2 separate regions of the Homo sapiens genome follow, and region 2 is linked to region 1. A link means that fine-mapping ties the variant in region 1 to the expression of a gene that starts in the linked region. Tissue or cell type: skeletal muscle. Region 1 holds a variant in brackets; the other region holds the start of a gene. All regions are shown on one strand. Distances are from middle to middle. Region 1 overlaps SMOC1 (SPARC related modular calcium binding 1). Region 2 holds the start of TTC9-DT (TTC9 divergent transcript).

What was found. PIP is the estimated chance that this variant, and not a neighbour inherited with it, causes the effect.
Region 2: it holds the start of TTC9-DT, and the variant in region 1 is the best candidate, but not a certain one, in a credible set for the expression of TTC9-DT in skeletal muscle (FUSION, PIP 0.88).

Annotation. Positions count from the first base shown.
Region 1 is chr14:70,026,071-70,028,975 of GRCh38, forward strand. The region is part of intron 11 of SMOC1 (SPARC related modular calcium binding 1); the gene reads left to right. Among named protein-coding and RNA genes, the nearest start is that of SNORD169, 49 kb to the left of the region's middle. The variant T/C (reference allele first, on the strand shown) is at 1,411.
Region 2 is chr14:70,640,079-70,642,983 of GRCh38, forward strand. TTC9-DT (TTC9 divergent transcript) reads right to left here and starts at 1,220. Exons shown (of 3, transcript NR_110071.1): 1 at 930-1,220. It overlaps TTC9 (tetratricopeptide repeat domain 9), which reads left to right and starts at 1,838. Exons shown (of 3, transcript NM_015351.2): 1 at 1,838-2,457. The coding sequence starts at 2,052. RefSeq lists enhancers at 733-912, 1,013-1,272 and silencers at 1,743-1,892, 2,113-2,302, 2,323-2,392.

The sequences.
Region 1 (2,905 bases):
CCTGGTAATTCATTAAGTCCTTGTTAGATGAATGAATAAGTGAAGGAATGAATGGATGGGGGGGTTGCCCCTTCCGGTGACATTATGCTCTGACACGCTTGGAATTTGTGGTCCTTTCGCAGAGCACAGTCAGATGGCCAATGTCGGGAAGAGACCATCCAGTGTCAATGTAGACCCCAGGCATACCAGGGGCACTCCTGGGCTAAGCGATGATGCTCTGTACTGCCCCTGCCTTCGGCCCCCTTCCCGTGCTAGTAGTTCTGGTCTGCACAGCACACGGAAGCCAAGCAATGGCTGAGTGTGGTGAGCTCAGATCCACCGAGCTCAGGGACTCCTCCTAGCCTTCCTCTGAAGCCTTTCCAGGCACCAGGTGTCTGCCAGTCCCAGCTGACATACAGGACCTGACAGAAGCATCCAGAGAAAACTGAAGTAGAATGTAGATTTAGGGATCCCTGGTCATCTGGATGTTCCTCCTCAATCCAGGCTCAGCTGCAGACAAGTGTTAGTTTCAGTTATCCTCATAGCTTTGCCCACAGAGGCCCCTAGGGTGCTTTGGAGTGCAACTGTCATTCTTCTTGGCCCAATACACCCTCTTGAACCTCTCACCTCAAAGGTAGGACTATGGAAAGTCTGGCCAGAAAGCCCGTGTCTGTGACATGTCTCTGAATGTATATACACATGTCTGTTTGTGCATGTCTCTGTGGGTAGGCCTGAGTGTGCACCTGTCTGTGTTCATGTCTGTGTCTGTTTGTACATGGTCTACACTTATGTCTTTAAGTATGGCTATGTGTGCATGTCTATACACATGTGTGCATGCATTGTGCATATGTCTGTGTATGTCTGTGCATGTGTCTGCATATGTGTGTGTATGAGTGTGATGGAGTGAGGGAGAGTAGAACATTGAGATAAGAGGAAGAGGGTATGTAGGATTAATCAATGGGGTGGGGTGAAGTGGAGGCTGAGTAGACTTAAAGCCTATGCAGAGGCAGAAAGGATTCCTGTGTCCCCACTCTCCATTTCAACACACACCACAGGACACACTGCTCTGGACCCAAGCAGCCCAGAGCTAGAAGGCTCTGTGGGTCCTCTAGTCCATTTTGCAGTCTAGGAGTCAAGGCTAGCCCAGAGAGGAGTAGCGATTTGCTCAAGGGTACATGTGAGGTACCACCACTGCTGGCGCTTGGCCCAGCCTCAGGATTCCTGGGCCAGACTGCTGTCCCCTCCAGGAGAAGGACCCCAGTGTGTTTGAAGATGTCGCCTTGTGTGAGCAGGCCAGTCTTGGTTGCCTGGTGAAGCCAAGGGAGTGGCCAGTGGGGGAGTCTGGGGAAGAGGGGGAGCAGACCAGCCTGGGGGCAGCGTGGGCAGGAGTAGAGGTGTTGCAGGGGGTGAGGGTGCCACCAGCAACCTGAG[T/C]GGGGAAGCCCACAGTTTCCAGGCAGGCAGTGCCTATGGGATGACGGACCACTATTGAGAGGCCCAGGAGCAGTGTGGGTATACCATGATCAGGCACAAGTAGGGGCTGGAGTAAGTGCAGAGGCCCTGAAGTCAGATGGGCCTGGCTTGATTTTAATCCCAGCTCTGACAATTACCGGATCTTTAATCCTTGGCAAGTTACCTAAACTCTCTAAGCCTCCGTTTCCCCATTTGCAAAGTGGAGATTATAGTACCTACCTCAACGATTTGGTGAGGATGTAATCAGATAATGTGTGTGAAGAACTTAGCACGGTACCTGGTACATAGCGAAGGCACAAAAGAAATTGGTAGCGGTAGAGGAACATGTCCGGGAAAGAAGGTATGAGTTTCAGAACTGCCCCCTCCATCCCTCTGCTCTGCAGGGCGGCAGAAAAAAGCCCCTGTGGTCAATGGTGTGCAGGGGCTCCGGGAGCAGAGCCTATGCGTCGGTCATCCATCCCGTGTCGTGCGGTGCCCCCTGGTGGGCTGCGAGGGGCTTGCATGCTAGGTGGGGACAGAAGCTGGCTGGGGGAAGGATGCCGAGCTTGGGGACCAGTAGAGTTTTGGGTCCAAGGGACTGAATTTTTGGAAATTCCACTGGATCACAGATATTTTACCAACCAGACTCCTCCCTGGAGAGCTGAATTCTCTGCATAACATGCCTCTTTCTTCACTTTCCCAATTTATAAAGCACCTTCACTGGGATCATTGTCACTGTCCTGTGAGGCAGGCGGGGTGGGGTCTAGTGCCTCCTTTTCTCAGAACTATCCGCTCTTCTTTTGCCTTGTCTGAGGATGCCAACTGCCTGGGGCTCAGCCTTCTTCTCTTCCATCCTCCCTGATGGCTCAGAGCATGATTCTGGAGGCAGCTAGCTAGGTCGGAATTTGCTTTGCCGCATGGAAGCTGTGCCATCCTGGGTGGGTTACTTGATATCTCCAAGCTTCAGTTTCATCATCCTAAGATGGAGATAATTTTATCACTCTCAAATAAAGTCGCTCTGAGGATTAACTGATAGGACTTAGGTAACAGGATTAGCACATAAGCCTCCATGAAAAAGAGCTGGTTACGGCTAGCTGTCCATTTTGCTTCACACATCTCAGCCTGGTGGGCAGGACTGCTGTGCACCTCCTTTTTAGATGTGCTGACCTTTCTACTCAGCAAGGAGAGAAGCAGCTGCTGGAGGGAGTGGAGGAAAGGTGGGATTTGAAGTCAGCAGCCTGACTCTGCCGCTTCCCACCTGCCTGCCTTGGGGCTGTCACCTTCTTTTAGAGTTCATGTCCTCCTCTGTAAAATTGGATAAACCGATATCCACCCCACGCCCACTCCACCCCATGTCCGCTCTCCTTTCTTCAGTTGTAAGGAATATTGGCATAACCCAGGGGACATGGAGCTGTGGCTCACATGACCAGCGGGTGGGCTTGGGTTCTGCAGCGCTGTACACTCCTCAAAGCCCTTT
Region 2 (2,905 bases), 610 kb after region 1:
CAACAACAACAACAAACAGTAAATGAATTGTGTATATTGTTCCATACCACTTATGTTGGCTAAAAGAGCACTTTTTACAAATATAGATGCCTAGGAAACAACTGGTAGGAATTACATCAAAATATTAACAAAGAATACAACTGGGTGTAGACTGGGGGGTTCTTTATACTTTACTGTATTTTCCAAAGTCTCTACAGCAGTGTTTCTCACACTTTAATAGGTAAACAAATCACCCAGTATGCTCGTTAAAATGCAGCTTCTGGGTTAGTAGGTGTGGGATTTTCAGATTCTGCATTTCTGATAGGTTCTCCTGTGATGCTGATGATATTGGCCCAAGGTCTACATTTTGAGTAGGAAGGTTTTAAAGCAGCATATCTGAACCAATATACTGGTTAACTGAGACCCACCCTCAGAGTTTCTGATTTCTTAAGTCTGGAGTAGGATCCTAGGATTTGCATTTCTAACTGTTTCCCAGGTGATGCTGACACTGCAGGTCTGGGGCCAGCACTCTGACAACCGGTGCTCTAGAATCTTTCTTTTTCTTAACATTAAGGAAGGGAGGGCACTAAAAAATATGTCAGGCTTCTCCATTGACTCCAAAATCAAATCCAAACTCTTCATCCAAAAGCCCCCATAATCCAACCCCGTCATTTCCCACTACTTCTCATTAGGCTATAAAATCAAACCACTATGCCCTAAACACACCTGAGATTTCAAACATCAGGACTTCCGCTGGATTTCCTCACTCCGGCTATGCCACTTCCTTCTACTTCTTCATGCCAAATCCTACCCAGCCTTCAAGGTCCTCAAATGCTATTTCCTCCATAAAGCCTCCTGATCTACCACTACTCAAAAAGCTACCTCTCCCTCCCCCCCTCAGGGCTGCACAGCACTTTTCGTTCCTCCCCAATGACAGGCACCATCTGTACCTGGTCCAGCGACTCTACCGGTGGGTGGTGTATCTTCGCCTGTAGACTGGGAGTTTCTTGAGGTCAGGGGAGTGACTTGCCTATCTTTGCCTCTTAGCCTTAGCAGATCCCCAGTAGACAGCTGACACTCAGAACCGACCAAAAGAAGGAAGGAATGGGACCTCCTGAGGAAGGGCACAGAACTGTCCTGTAAATGGAAACTAGACCGGACGCACGCCAAGCCGATGACCCACAGTAACAGGTGTTCTCCATCTCTGATGTCTGTGATTCATCCTGCACAGCTGCGCGCACACAGCACACGCATACACAGGCTCCCAGAATACGGCGCCCCACACGCTGTACCGCCCGTCGCGTTCTGGACGCCCCGGCGACCACACACACCGAGACACACCTCAGCGACAACCTGGATCCACAAAAAGGAGGCCCTGCCCCCTTAAAAAATACTAACACCTTACTGCAAAGAACTAGCAGCTACGGCTTGCGCCTGCGCCCCTTGTTCCCTGCCGCACCTTTTCTTGTAGTTAAGAAATCTATTTCTGCACGCATTTCGTCGCCGCCGCCCCCCATCCCTACACGCACGCACACACACACACACACACGCACACACACACACTCCCCTTCCCCTACACCTACCCCCCTCCCCCCACCTCCTTTCAGACTAGGCGCGCCTCGCAGAGCGGGATTGAATGGGAAAGAGCGGGGCCGTCTTTGTCATTAATCCTCCCCTCCTTCGGGCAAGCCAAGCTTCTTCCGGGTCAGCGACCATCCCCGCCACCCCACTCGGGGCCACGGTCCCCCCGCAGCGCTAGTCCCGGGCCCGCGAGCACCGGCCCCCGCCACCCGCAGGTTGCGGAGGGAGGAGGGCGGGAGCGGGCGGCGCGGAGCCGGGAGGCGGGGGAGGGGCCGGCGTCCGAGGCGGCGGCGGCGGCGGCTGGAGCAGCCTCTGGCAGCAGCGGGGAGAATGGGAGTGCGGGGCGCCAGACCGCCGCGGGGTGTCACGGCCGCCACGAAGCCTGCGAGGCGCGGGGCCGGCGCCCGCGGCTTTTAAACCCGGGAAGGCGCGGCGGCGGCGGCGGCGGCGGGCAGATCGCGGCGCGCACCAGGCGCCGGGGCGGCGGCCGAATGGAGAGAAAGGGCTCGGCGGCCGGGGCCAAGGGGAACCCGAGCCCGCCCGCGGCCGGAGAGGGGCAGCGGCCACCGCCGCCGCTGTGCGTCCCGGGCGGCGGCGGAGGAGCCCCAGCGAGGGGCCAGGTCGGGGCGGCGGCCGAGCCGGCCGAGCTCATCCGACGAGCGCACGAGTTCAAAAGCCAAGGGGCGCAGTGCTACAAGGACAAGAAATTCCGTGAAGCCATAGGCAAATACCACCGGGCGTTGCTGGAGCTGAAGGGGCTGCTGCCGCCCCCCGGGGAACGGGAGCGGGACTCGCGCCCGGCCTCCCCGGCTGGGGCCCTGAAGCCCGGCCGCCTCTCGGAGGAGCAGAGCAAGACGGTGGAAGCCATCGAGATCGACTGTTACAACAGCCTGGCAGGTGAGCCGCGCCGCGCCCCCCGCGCCGCGGTCCCCGTTCTTCGGCCCGGTCCCTCCGCGGACCACTGCGGCGCTCCCGCGGTGCAGATTCTCCTGCTGTGACTGTGTTGCTCTGGGGAGAACCCGGGAGGGAGGCGCTTTGGAAAAAGTGTGACTTTCAGGATTATGCCTTTCAAAGGCCATAATCATCTCTTGTCCCTTCGCTAGCATACATCGTAAATCTCACCTAGAAATGACTGGAAGGGGACCCAGCTGGCCTGGCTATGGCTGCTGCTGCTACTGCTCACCAGTGGACCTGGGTCCAAAATGCGGAAGCAGCGCCCGGGGTGGGCCCCCGCAGCCACCGCTAGCCCAGCTTTTTCCTGCGGGTGGGTCCCAAGGGAGGCCACGCACCTGTCTGCTCTCCTTAGGTAGCATGAGCACCAGGATTGGTCCTCGCCTTTTCCCCA